Regions from separate parts of the Homo sapiens genome. Here regions 1, 3 and 4 are each linked to region 2. Evidence: fine-mapped expression QTL. A gene starts in region 2. Each other region holds a variant in brackets. All regions are shown on one strand. Distances are between the middles of the regions. Region 1 overlaps CDH13 (cadherin 13). Region 2 holds the start of HSBP1 (heat shock factor binding protein 1). Region 3 overlaps CDH13 (cadherin 13). Region 4 overlaps CDH13 (cadherin 13).

Evidence for each region.
Region 1: its variant is fine-mapped to the expression of HSBP1 in whole blood (INTERVAL, PIP 0.99).
Region 3: its variant is fine-mapped to the expression of HSBP1 in whole blood (INTERVAL, PIP 0.99).
Region 4: its variant is fine-mapped to the expression of HSBP1 in blood mononuclear cells (TOPMed, PIP above 0.99). The same link has a PIP of 0.9 or more in whole blood.

Annotation. Positions count from the first base shown.
Region 1 is chr16:83,754,782-83,757,529 of GRCh38, reverse strand. The region is part of intron 11 of CDH13 (cadherin 13); the gene reads right to left. All of the region lies in intron 1 of CEDORA (CDH13 antisense oligodendrocyte and neuron associated lncRNA), which reads left to right. Among named protein-coding and RNA genes, the nearest start is that of CEDORA, 17 kb to the left of the region's middle. The variant C/A (reference allele first, on the strand shown) is at 1,130.
Region 2 is chr16:83,806,913-83,809,412 of GRCh38, reverse strand. HSBP1 (heat shock factor binding protein 1) reads right to left here and starts at 1,435. Exons shown (of 4, transcript NM_001537.4): 1 at 1,292-1,435; 2 at 667-733; 3 at 1-108. The coding sequence starts at 1,336. RefSeq lists silencers at 999-1,288, 1,306-1,482 and an enhancer at 1,140-1,641.
Region 3 is chr16:83,725,872-83,728,619 of GRCh38, reverse strand. All of the region lies in intron 10 of CDH13 (cadherin 13), which reads right to left. The region is part of intron 2 of CEDORA (CDH13 antisense oligodendrocyte and neuron associated lncRNA); the gene reads left to right. Among named protein-coding and RNA genes, the nearest start is that of CEDORA, 46 kb to the left of the region's middle. RefSeq lists an enhancer at 182-682. The variant ATG/G (reference allele first, on the strand shown) is at 1,344.
Region 4 is chr16:83,768,449-83,771,167 of GRCh38, reverse strand. All of the region lies in intron 11 of CDH13 (cadherin 13), which reads right to left. All of the region lies in intron 1 of CEDORA (CDH13 antisense oligodendrocyte and neuron associated lncRNA), which reads left to right. Among named protein-coding and RNA genes, the nearest start is that of CEDORA, 3.1 kb to the left of the region's middle. RefSeq lists an enhancer at 1,556-1,695. The variant A/T (reference allele first, on the strand shown) is at 1,613.

The sequences.
Region 1 (2,748 bases), 52 kb after region 2:
CTTGGTTCACTGCAACCTCCGCCTCCTGGGTTCAAGCGATTGTCCTGCCTCAGGCTCCCAAGTAACTGAGATTACAGGCACATGCCACTGTATCCAGCTAATCTTTGTACGTTTGGTAGAGACAGGGTTTTGCCATGTTGGCCAGGCTGGTCTCGATCTCCTGACCTCAGGTGATTCACCCGCCTCAGCCTCCCAAAATTCTGGGATTACAGGAGTGAGCCACCGTGCCCAGCCTGGATTTGTTGATTTTGTCTTGTATATTTGTTTCCTATTTTCTAGAATTTTCCTCTGAGCACTGGTTTAGTGCATCCCACAAGTTTTGACATTTCATATTTCTATTTTTGTTTTTGATTATGAGTTATTTGGAAGTGTACTGTTTTATGTTCAGTCAGTTAGGGTGTTTCTGGTTATATTTTGCTACTAATGCTTAGTTTAATTCCATTGTGATTGGAGGATATACTAGAAATAATTGCAGTTAAAAACGTTTGTTAGACTTTTCTATATGCTCTGCATGCAAACAATTTAGGTAATTTTCCTTGGGAATTTGAAAAGAATGAACTCAGTTGTTGAGTTCAGAGTTCTATATATGTTAGTTGATGAAATTTGTTAATTATTTTGTTCAAATCTTTTACAGCTTTACTCCTTGTTGTTTTTTCTTGAAGCTGATATGAGAGATGTTTTAAGACTCCCACAATGATTGTAGATTTGTCTACTTCTCTTTTTAGTTTTCTCTGCTCTGTATATTTGGAATCTGTGCTGTCCAGTACATACAGATTTAGGACTGTGATGTCCTTCTTTTTGATACCTCCCTTCATCATTATGAAATGGCCTCTTTACCTCTTGTCATGTTTCTTGTTTTAAACAGGGGTGTCCAATCTTTTGGCTTCCCTGGGCCACATTGGAAGAAGAATTGTCTTGGGCCACACATACAATACACTAACACTAACAGTAGCTGAAGAGCTATAAAAAAAGCGCCAAAAAATTTCATAATGTTGTTTAAAGAAAGTTTAAAAATTTGTGTTGGGCCGCATTCAAAGCCATTCTGGGCCACATATGGCCCACAGGCTGTGGGTTGGACAAGCTTGTTTTAAAAAATACTTTCATGTGTTTTTAGGAGAGACTGTACTAT[C/A]AAGGTATATTTTTCTTTTATTTCCATTCTTTGTTCTTTTATTTAAAGTGTGTCTATTGTATGTAGCATCCAGTTTGCTGATTTTTAAAAATAGTCTGATAATATTACTTGAAATATTTAATCTGTTTACATTTTGCATTTTACTGTGGTATAATTAGGTATATACTTACTGTATCACCTTGTTGTTCTATTTGGCCATCTTTTTAATGTTGTTCCCCCTCCTTTCTTATTTTGGATTAGTCAAACCTATTTCCTTCTATTAATTTGTTAGTTTTACTTTCTTTTATATTCTTTTAGTGATTACCCTAAGGGTTATACAATATAGATACTTGACTTATTAGAGTCTAATACAAAGTATTGCTTTAACTACATCTCCAATGCTGCAGAAACTGTTTTAACTATGTTTATAGCCTCTCACTTTTTCTGTTACTGCTGTCATGCATTTTAGTTCTATAAATATTTTTAACTCCTTATGTCCTTACAATTTTACTTCATTTACTTTTTTACTTTATACATATTTAACTTTCTATTTTTATTTATGTTTCTTGTGTTTCTATGCCTCTCTGGCATCATTTTCCCTCTGCCTGAAATATTCTCTTCAGTAAAAGGCATAAACCTGCTTGCAATACAATTCCATTTTTTTTTTTTTTGCCCCAAAAGTCTTTAATTCACCTTGATTTTGAAGGGAAAAATTTGAGAACTAAAGAATTCTAGGTTGGTAGGCATCTTTAAAGTGCTCAGAGAAATGTTATTCCATTGCCTTCCACATTCCATTATTTCTATCTAGAAGTCAGCCATAAGTCATATTGTAGCTCATTTGCAGGTAAATGCCTCTTTTATTCTCAGGCTATTTTTAACATTTTCTCTTTGATATTGTTTTTCATCAGTTTGATTTCAGTGTTTGAGGTGTGTTTTTCTTCAAATTTATCCAGCTTGTGGTTTGCTAAACTTTTTGATTTAATAGGGAGAATGTCTTTCATCAGTTTTGGAAAATTCCTGGACATTACATCTTCAAATTTTTTTTTCTGCTCCATTAGCACTCTCCTATCCTTCTGTAACTCCAATTCCACACACTAGTCTTTTGGCAGATTTTTTCCCGTTCTTTATCCTCACTGTGCTTCCCTTGTGGTGTTTGCTATAGATTCATATTCCAGGTTAAAAATCCTGTGTTCTGCTGTTAAGTCTACTTACTGAGTTTTTAATATGATAATATGTATTTCAGTTCTGGAATATCTATCTGATTCCTTCTTAAAGATTTCAGATCTCTTGTGTAATTCTCTCTGCTTGAATCTATCTTTTATTCTGTCTCCTTGAACATACTAATCATGTTTATTTTAATGTTCTTGTGTGCTAATTCAAATATCTGGATCCTCTGTAGTCTGATTTTTCTCTTGTTCATCACTTACACATTCTTGCTTCTTTACAGGTCAAGTAATTTTTATAAAACTGTAAATTGGGCATTATTAAAAAAAAGATTGGAGAGGCTCCAGATGACATATGGTGCTATGAGTTTTTCCCTCTCCTGTATTAGTCAGATAGGATGATGTATTAGTCCATTTTCATGCTGCTGATAAAGACATACCAGAGACTGGGCAATTTAAAAAAGAAAGAGGTTTAAT
Region 2 (2,500 bases):
GCGTGGCAGGTATCTTGTTTTCACTTTCCAGTTCTTCCACCCCAGCCTGTGTCATGAGGTCCGCGATATTCTTTTCCAGATCATCAATGCGACTACTCATATCATCAAGTGCTGAAGTTAAAGACAACGCGTGCCAACATCTCATTGAGCCTTTTTCCTCCCGTCCCTGCAGACTACAGCCTTAAACACAACGACTTTAGGGAAACTGGTCTTCCAATTTTCTTTCGACACTGTTACACGCTGGTGGGTAAGAGTACAGGACTGTGGGGCATGGCTACCCCGCATCGGATTCCAGCCCTGACCCTTACTAGTGATGGAACCCCTAAACCTCAATTTATTCATTTGCTAAAGATGATAACACTACAACCCACTCATAAGGTCATGCTGAGCATCAAAAGACACACACAAAAGCGCTTAGTTCACAGTGCATGGTCCACCACACCAGCTATTAGGATTGGTAGACGTATGCTCCTTGAGCCAGGAGTCTAACTCAGCTTTGCCCCTAGCTCTCGGCGCAGTCCTTCTCAGAAACACAGTACAATCCAAGCTCAAATTCTACAAGTGAATGGCTGAAGCTAGCCTGAAAACTACTCATTTATCCCCACCACTGCCCGGCAAATAGGCTCCAAAGGCCCACAGGAGGCCGACTGCAGATAAAAAGGATATTTCTCCCAATGATCTGGTCAGACATGGTCTGAAATTTATCTTGCATCTGCTGCAGGAGTGTCTGCACCTAAGAAAAACCGAAACAAACAAACACGGTCCACATCGATCCTGAGACAACTTCCTGGGATCAGGACGCAAGCCCTGGTCCCGGGGTTCCAGCCCCATTTCTGCCTCTGGACAGCTGTGCGGCCTTCAGCAAGATCTTCCTTCTCTGGGCTTCCGTTTTCCAACCTGTCCAATTAGACTGCTGGGCTGGGGAGGCCGCTGCGACTCAAAGCTCAGGGTCTTTAGGTTGTTTCTGCCGGGCTGGGGCACCCGGGGGTGTGTGAGGAGTTGAAGGGCGGGGAGGGTGTCAGAGGTAGGCGGGAGGGACCCGGAGGGCGTTCGCGACAGATGAATGGGGCTACTGGAAGGGGTCGGGCTTGGGGGCGCCCGCGGGGAGACTGGCCCGCACCGAGCGCCCCGGGGGTCAAGGTGGCCGGGAGCCTCGGCCAGAGACGCTTCCAGAAACGGGGCCTCGGCAGACGCCACGCGCGGCCGCGGTGGGCGCGCCTCTGTCCAGCAGGGCTTGGCCCGGCGCCGCCCGGGAAGGCCGCGGCCTCCGGCCCTCACAGCCGTCCCTTACCACCGAGGTGAGGTCCTGCACGGTCTTGGGGTCAGTCTCGGCCATCTCCCCGATGCCCAGCTTGGCGGTGATGTCTCAGACCGTAACCTACACTTCCGTTTGTCCGCTCAGTCGCCCCGGGCCGCTGCTTCTCGCGACGAGACTGGCAGCTCGCGGGACCGCGGGGCATTATGGGAGTAGTAGTTTCTCCCGCACCGGAAGGGCCTCGAGGCCGCGCGCTTCCGTTCCAAGGAGCGGCCCCACCCCACTCTCCCCGCCTTCTTTCGCATAGCCCCTCCCCTCCCTCTATGCCCCGCCCCTCACGCAGCGCGCCGTCAGTGGGGTGGAAAGTGAGACCAACTCAGAAATGGAGCAATAGAGGCAGGGAGTGGTCTTGGCCTCTCTTCCAGGCTGTAGTCAGTCGAAAGACGGCTCTGGGGTTTCTTTGGCCTGTCGGGACGAACTTACAGAACTTTTGCCCTTCAACAAGCCCCACTGTACCCTTGTAACTGCCCCCAAGCCAAGGAACATGACCCACCCCTACCCGCCCCGGGAGCCCCATGGCTCCTGTCCTGTTCTGTCATCTCCACCCTATGAAGGTGGCCAGCGTCTGGAGTTTAGCCCAGTAGGTTCATTGTGCCCGTCAGGTTCATATGAGGGGATTCAGACAGGAAGCTGTCCATCATGCCTGGCTTCTTTCACTCCACGCAATGCCTGCTGTTGAGTGGGGAAGGCTTCCGGCATCAGGGTTAGACTGTGGGTTTGGGTGTTGAAGGAGGTGGGCACTGCTGATTTGGAACCTCAAGTTCCAACCCCACAGGTGGTCTTTAGGATTGGGTCTCATGGCAAGGGGATAGGAGAGTCCTTGACTGCGGGCCTGGCATGTTCTGGAAACTTTCACACATCTCATTTAAGGACTGTGCTATGTGAGGGGTCAGCTCCAGTTTGACTTTAGCTAGGGAGAGGCTGTAAGGTGTTAGAGCTGTTACGGGAAAGGGTCCTGATCCAGACCCCAAGAGAGGGGGTTCTTGGATCTCATGCAAGAAAGAATTCAGGGCGAGTCTGTAAAGTGAAAGCAAGTTTAAGAAAATGAAGGAATAAAAGAATGGTTACTCCATAGACAGAGCCCTGAGGGCTGCTGGTTGCTCATTTTTATAGTTATTTCTTGATTATATGCTAAACCAGGGGTGGGTGATTCATGCCTCCCCTTTTTAGACTATATAGCGTAAC
Region 3 (2,748 bases), 81 kb after region 2:
CGCTTATTTATCTTTGCTTTCTCTTCTCTCCAGGCTTCCATTGGCACTTGGTAAACACTGGTGACTGAGTGGGTAAATTACAAAGATGAGCATTTTGAATTCCTCTTCCAACAGAAGCTTTAATGTAGTTCTTATCAAGCCTAATTCACTCACTAAAAAGAATTGCATTGCACATATTGGCAGGAGCTATTGAACTGTTGTTTGTCAAGACCTTTTCTCCTCGTTTCATAGGGACTCAAACTAAATGTATCTTCACAACACACACACACACACACACGCACACACATACACATACACACATAGCCAGTGCCATTCAACTGTTAGCGAATCACACCGCTTACGGCTCACAGGCTTGTGGGGTCAGCCCGTGAGAACAGGCACCTTCTCTCCAGGGCCCAGTGTGCACATCAAAGACTTAAACCCTGTGGTCGAGGATAGACTCTGAGACAGAGACGTGGTGTGTGGCTCTGAAGCCTGCCCGCGGTGCTGTTCCCCCTTTCCAGGCAGCGTGCTCACTGCTGTCCACATCTGAGTATGTGTTGCCGCATAACAGACTCCTCAGAGGAGCTGTGGCTCTTTGTACAGTCACAGTTTTCAAAAGCTTTTGCCTCACAAAAGAAAAAGCAAAGCGCCTTCCCTCAGGCAGTTTTCAATTCTTCCCTCCAAATCCATCAGTCAAACTTGATACTTAAACCCTTGAATCCCAAAAGCTCCTTTGAGAAGCGAGCCCATTAGCAGCGGGCGGGAATGGCTGCCCTCCCCGCCAACGCCCCTGTTCACTCCCTGGGCTGCCCTGCTGTGACTGGTGAGCAAAGTTGTCAGCCAGTTCCGTCAAGGGATCTGTCATTCCCAAACCTGTTTGGTCCTTAGTCCTCCTGTCCTGAACACACAGGCCTTTCCTGGAGAGCTAGCAAGCCTAAGACTTTTTTGGCCTTTGAATGCAATTTTATTTTTTAGGGCTTCTAATGTTGATGTACTAACATTCTCGGCTTATAAAATCTCCAATGTTGATATTTCATTTAGTAAAACTGATATTTTTCTTTCTCAATGCGGGAAGGTTGGAAGGTTCTCCTTTGAGAACCCACTGCCGCAGTGGTGATCTCTGGAACAGGTGGATAGGTGTGCACTAAATAAAGCAAGCAGAAGAAGATGTGCTGGGAGAATCTCGGTGATGGGGCAAAGGGTGCTTGCTATAAAATTCTTCCAACGTTTCCACATGTTTGAAAACTGTTCTAAAGTTGAGAAAATACAATAAAATGATGAATGTGTCTGTTCTCTAAACACTCAGCAGCGTCCCTTCCCACGTAGATGTCTTTCTGCTACAAAACCATTAAGGATATCAC[ATG/G]TTAGCTGATTTCATTCCGATGAAATGTCCGTACTAGGCAAACCCACAGAGACAGGAAGCTGGTTAGTGGTCACTAGAGCAGTGGGGAGAAGGAAGCACGTTAACGGTTAAGGGGGATGGGGCTTCTCTTTAGGGTGCTGAAAATGTTCTAAAATCGAGGGCGGTGATGGTTGCACAACTCTGTGACTACACTAAAAACCATTGAATTGTATATTTTAAATGGGTGAATTGTACGGTATGTGAATTATATCTCATAAATCAATACAGCTGTTATACATGGGAAAGATAACTTCAAGGAAGGGAGGTATCCATGATTTCCAGGGCTGCTAAAACAGAACAAAACAAGGCACAAACCAAACACTCCTCCCTCGATAGTCTTCAGAATACTCTTGACTGACAGAACGCCAAAAAAGGACGGTGATTTTTTTTTTTTTTTGAGACAGAGTCTTGCTCTGTCGCCCCAGGCTGGAGCGCAGTGGCGCCATCTCCGCTCACTACAAGCTCCGCCTCCCGGGTTCACGCCATTCCCCTGCCTCAGCCTCGCGAGTAGCTGGGACTACAGGGGCCCGCCTCCACGCTCGGCTAATTTTTTTTTGTATTTTTAGTAGAGACGGGGTTTCACCGTGTTAGCCAGGATGGTCTTGATCTCCTCACCTCGTGATCTGCCCGCCTCGGCCTCCCAAAGGGCCGGGATTACAGGCGTGAGCCACCGTGCCCAGCCAACAGTGATGTTTTGATTTTTCTTCCATTTTTTGCCCGTTTAGCAAATACTCAACAAACAAAAGACGTGCAGAGTCTCCCCTGCAGGGCCTGCCTTCTTAGTGGCAATGGCTGCAGCAGAAGGGGCCAAGATAACGATTTGTCTGGAGAATGAACAAATAAATAAATAAATGAATGAATGAATGGACCCTATCTAGGGTCCTTGTTTCTCCAAAACCCGAACAGACACCCCGGTCTTGTCACAAACTTGGCCTGTGACCTGCAGCACATGACTGTCACTCTTGGGCCTCAGTTTCCCCATCTAAAAAACAGAGGTCATGTGAAATGATGGTCTCTAAGGTGCCTTCTAACTGATACATTATGACAATCTTTCCAAAAGCAATTGTTATTCAATGGCTGAGCAAAAAAGTTATAAAATTATCCCTTGTGGGAAGATTCAGACCAAGGTCCAGTTTTCTCTACATGAAAATGCAACACTTTACAATGTTGTGTAAGTGCAGAAAGTGAAAAGACAATCATTAAAAAGCTGAGAAAAATAAAGTCAGGAAAGAATGCTACATAAATCGCTCAGTCTGACTTCAAAGGGAAATTTTTTTCCAAAGTAAGATCATGAGAATTGATTTATGTCCTCAGAGCCAATGCAAATGCAGGATTTGTACAATATCCATTTATCAGTTCCAAAG
Region 4 (2,719 bases), 38 kb after region 2:
GATTTACGTAGAGGAATCGAGCACCTGTTATCATACAGTCTAGGAAAAGTCCAAGCAAACCAGGCAGGCTGTTGCTTTGAGCACATGGGGGTCTACATTCTAGTTTTTTCTCATTTTCTAGAAAAGAAAACTAGACACTCAGATTAAGGAAAATGTCCAAGGTGCTCTAACATTAGTGTGTCAGAGGCATTGAAATCAGAGCAACTCCATCTTGAATAGGTGCTGGGTAAAATGAGGCAGAGATCTACTGGGCTGCCTTCCCAGGTGGTTAAGGCATTCTAAGTCACAGGATGAGATAGGAGGTCAGCATAAGATACAGGACATAAAGACCTTTCTGATAAAACAGGTTGCAGTACAGAAGCTGGCCAAAACCCACCAAAATCAACATGGTGACAAGGGTGACCTCTCGTGGTCCTCACTACTGCACTCCCACCAGCACCATGACAGTTTACAAATGCCATGGCAACATCAGGAGGTTACTCTCTATGATCTAAAAAGGGGAGGCATGAATAATCCACCCCTTGTTTAGCATATCATCAATAAATAACCTCAAAAATGGGCAACCAGCAGCCTTTGGGGCTGCTCTGTCTACGGGGAGTAGCCATTCTTTTATTCCTTTACATTCCTAATATACTTGCTTTCACTTAATGGACTCGCACTGAATTCTTTCTTGCGTGAGATCTAAGAACTCTCTCTTGGAGTCTGGATCGGGACCTCTTTCCAGTCACAAGCATGTCACCTGTTTAAGAGCTGTGGCCCCCTGGCAGGGCATCCCCATCCCTGGAGCTTTCTGGCTATTCTATAAAGTGAATGGAATGCCTGGCAATTGTAAAGCACTTCCCCGTCCATAAGAGCCAGAGCCACAGAGCTCGAAGTTTGAGTATTTTGGTGCTTGTGGTTGGTACTAAACACTGGTAGAAAGGGTAAAAAACAGTTTCCTGTGCTTTTCTTACCTACATGGCCAACAGTATATTGCTTTGTGTGGGAAGCCTGTAGAACTGAACCAGGACTCCTCCAAGAAACATGAGCCACGCGTGGTTCTCCTGGCATTGCTTTGACGCTGTGGGTGTGGATGCAATGAGAAACAGGGTCAGGTTTTGAAACCATCCCCACAGGGTTGACGGGAATTGCATGCCAGGTTCTGGGTACAAATACAGTTATAATTCAGCGTTAATCAGGCTGCACCCTGGCCCAGTTCCTTGTTGCAGTAGGTCATGTACCGTAACCAAGTACCCTGATTTTTCTGAGGTGGTTTAATTACTTTTTTCTCTTCTCTTCTCCTTTCCCCTTTCAGCCTGCTTCCTACCTAGCCCTTTTTGAAATGCAAAATAACCTCTCACCTCCCCCTCACCACACATTCCCTACAAGGCAAGGTCATCTACGTGCCCCAGTGATCTCTTCTCCAGAATTGACAGTCAATTTGCAGATCAAAGCACATCTCCACGGAACTCCCACTTCTGGGGTGGCCTCAGGAGGACATGGTGAAAACACGCCCACTTGGCCACTTTTACAACTTATTTCTGCCCAGGAAGGCACCAACTCAACTGTATGCCAACTCAGCTGTTTGGTAGATAAGACACCAGGCTAGCAGGGGGACTTCCTGCCCTTGCTC[A/T]CTTCCCCTTTAACCTTATAAACATGTCTGCTTTTTGCTCCAAAGATGAAGCAGCACACTTAAAGCAGGACACTTTGTGTCTTTCCAAGCTAGCTTCAAAAATAAATTCACTTTTCTTGTACCAGGCCTGGATCTTGTTAATTGGACTCTGCTGCAGTGAGTGGCTAACCAGTTCCTCAGTTACAGTAGCACTAGATCCTGACATTTGCTTCCCCACCGTTCCCCTAGATAGGATCTCTGACATTAAGGCCAGAAGACTGTTTAAGAATTGATTTGCATCCCCATTGTTCCTATAGACACTTAAGATGTTTTTCAGACACACCTCCCCAGAATTCCAGCCACCAGTTGGAAGTCTCCCACAGGGGAACAGGATCAGCATGAGAACACAGCTGCTTCCTCTCCCCTTCCTATGACTTCACCCTGTACTCTTGATCTCCACACTTCTGCCCACTCCAAAGCCCTCAAAAACCCAAGCCTCAACTTCCTTGGGGAAATGGCTTTGAGGTTCCCTCCCATCTTCTCGTTCTGTGACCCTGTGGTCAAGGTGTTTGAACCAGAGCAACTCCATCTTGAATAGGAGCTGGGTAAAATGAGGATGAGACCTACTGGGCTGCATTCCCAGACGGTTAAGGCATTCTAAGTCACAGGATGAGATAGGAGGTCAGCACAAGATATAGGTTATAAAGACCTTGCTGATAAAACAGGTTGCAATAAAGAAGACGGCTAAAACCCACCAAGACCAAGATGGCGATGAGAGTGACCTCTGGTCATCCTCATTGCTACACTCCAACCAGCACCATGACAGTTTACAAATGCCATGGCAACATCAGGAAGTTACCCTATATGGTCTAAAAAGGGGAGACATGAATAATTCACCCTTTGTTTAGCATATCATCAAGAAAAAACTATAAACATGGGCAACCAGCAGCCCTTGGGGCTGCTCGATGTCGTAGCCATTCTTTTATTCCTTTACTTTCCTAATAAACTTGCTTTCACTTTACTCTGTGGACTAGCCCTGAATTCTTTCTTGCATGAGATCCAAGAACCCTCTCTTGGGGTCTGGATCATGACCCCTTTCCATTAACACTATGATTAAACCTGTTTCTC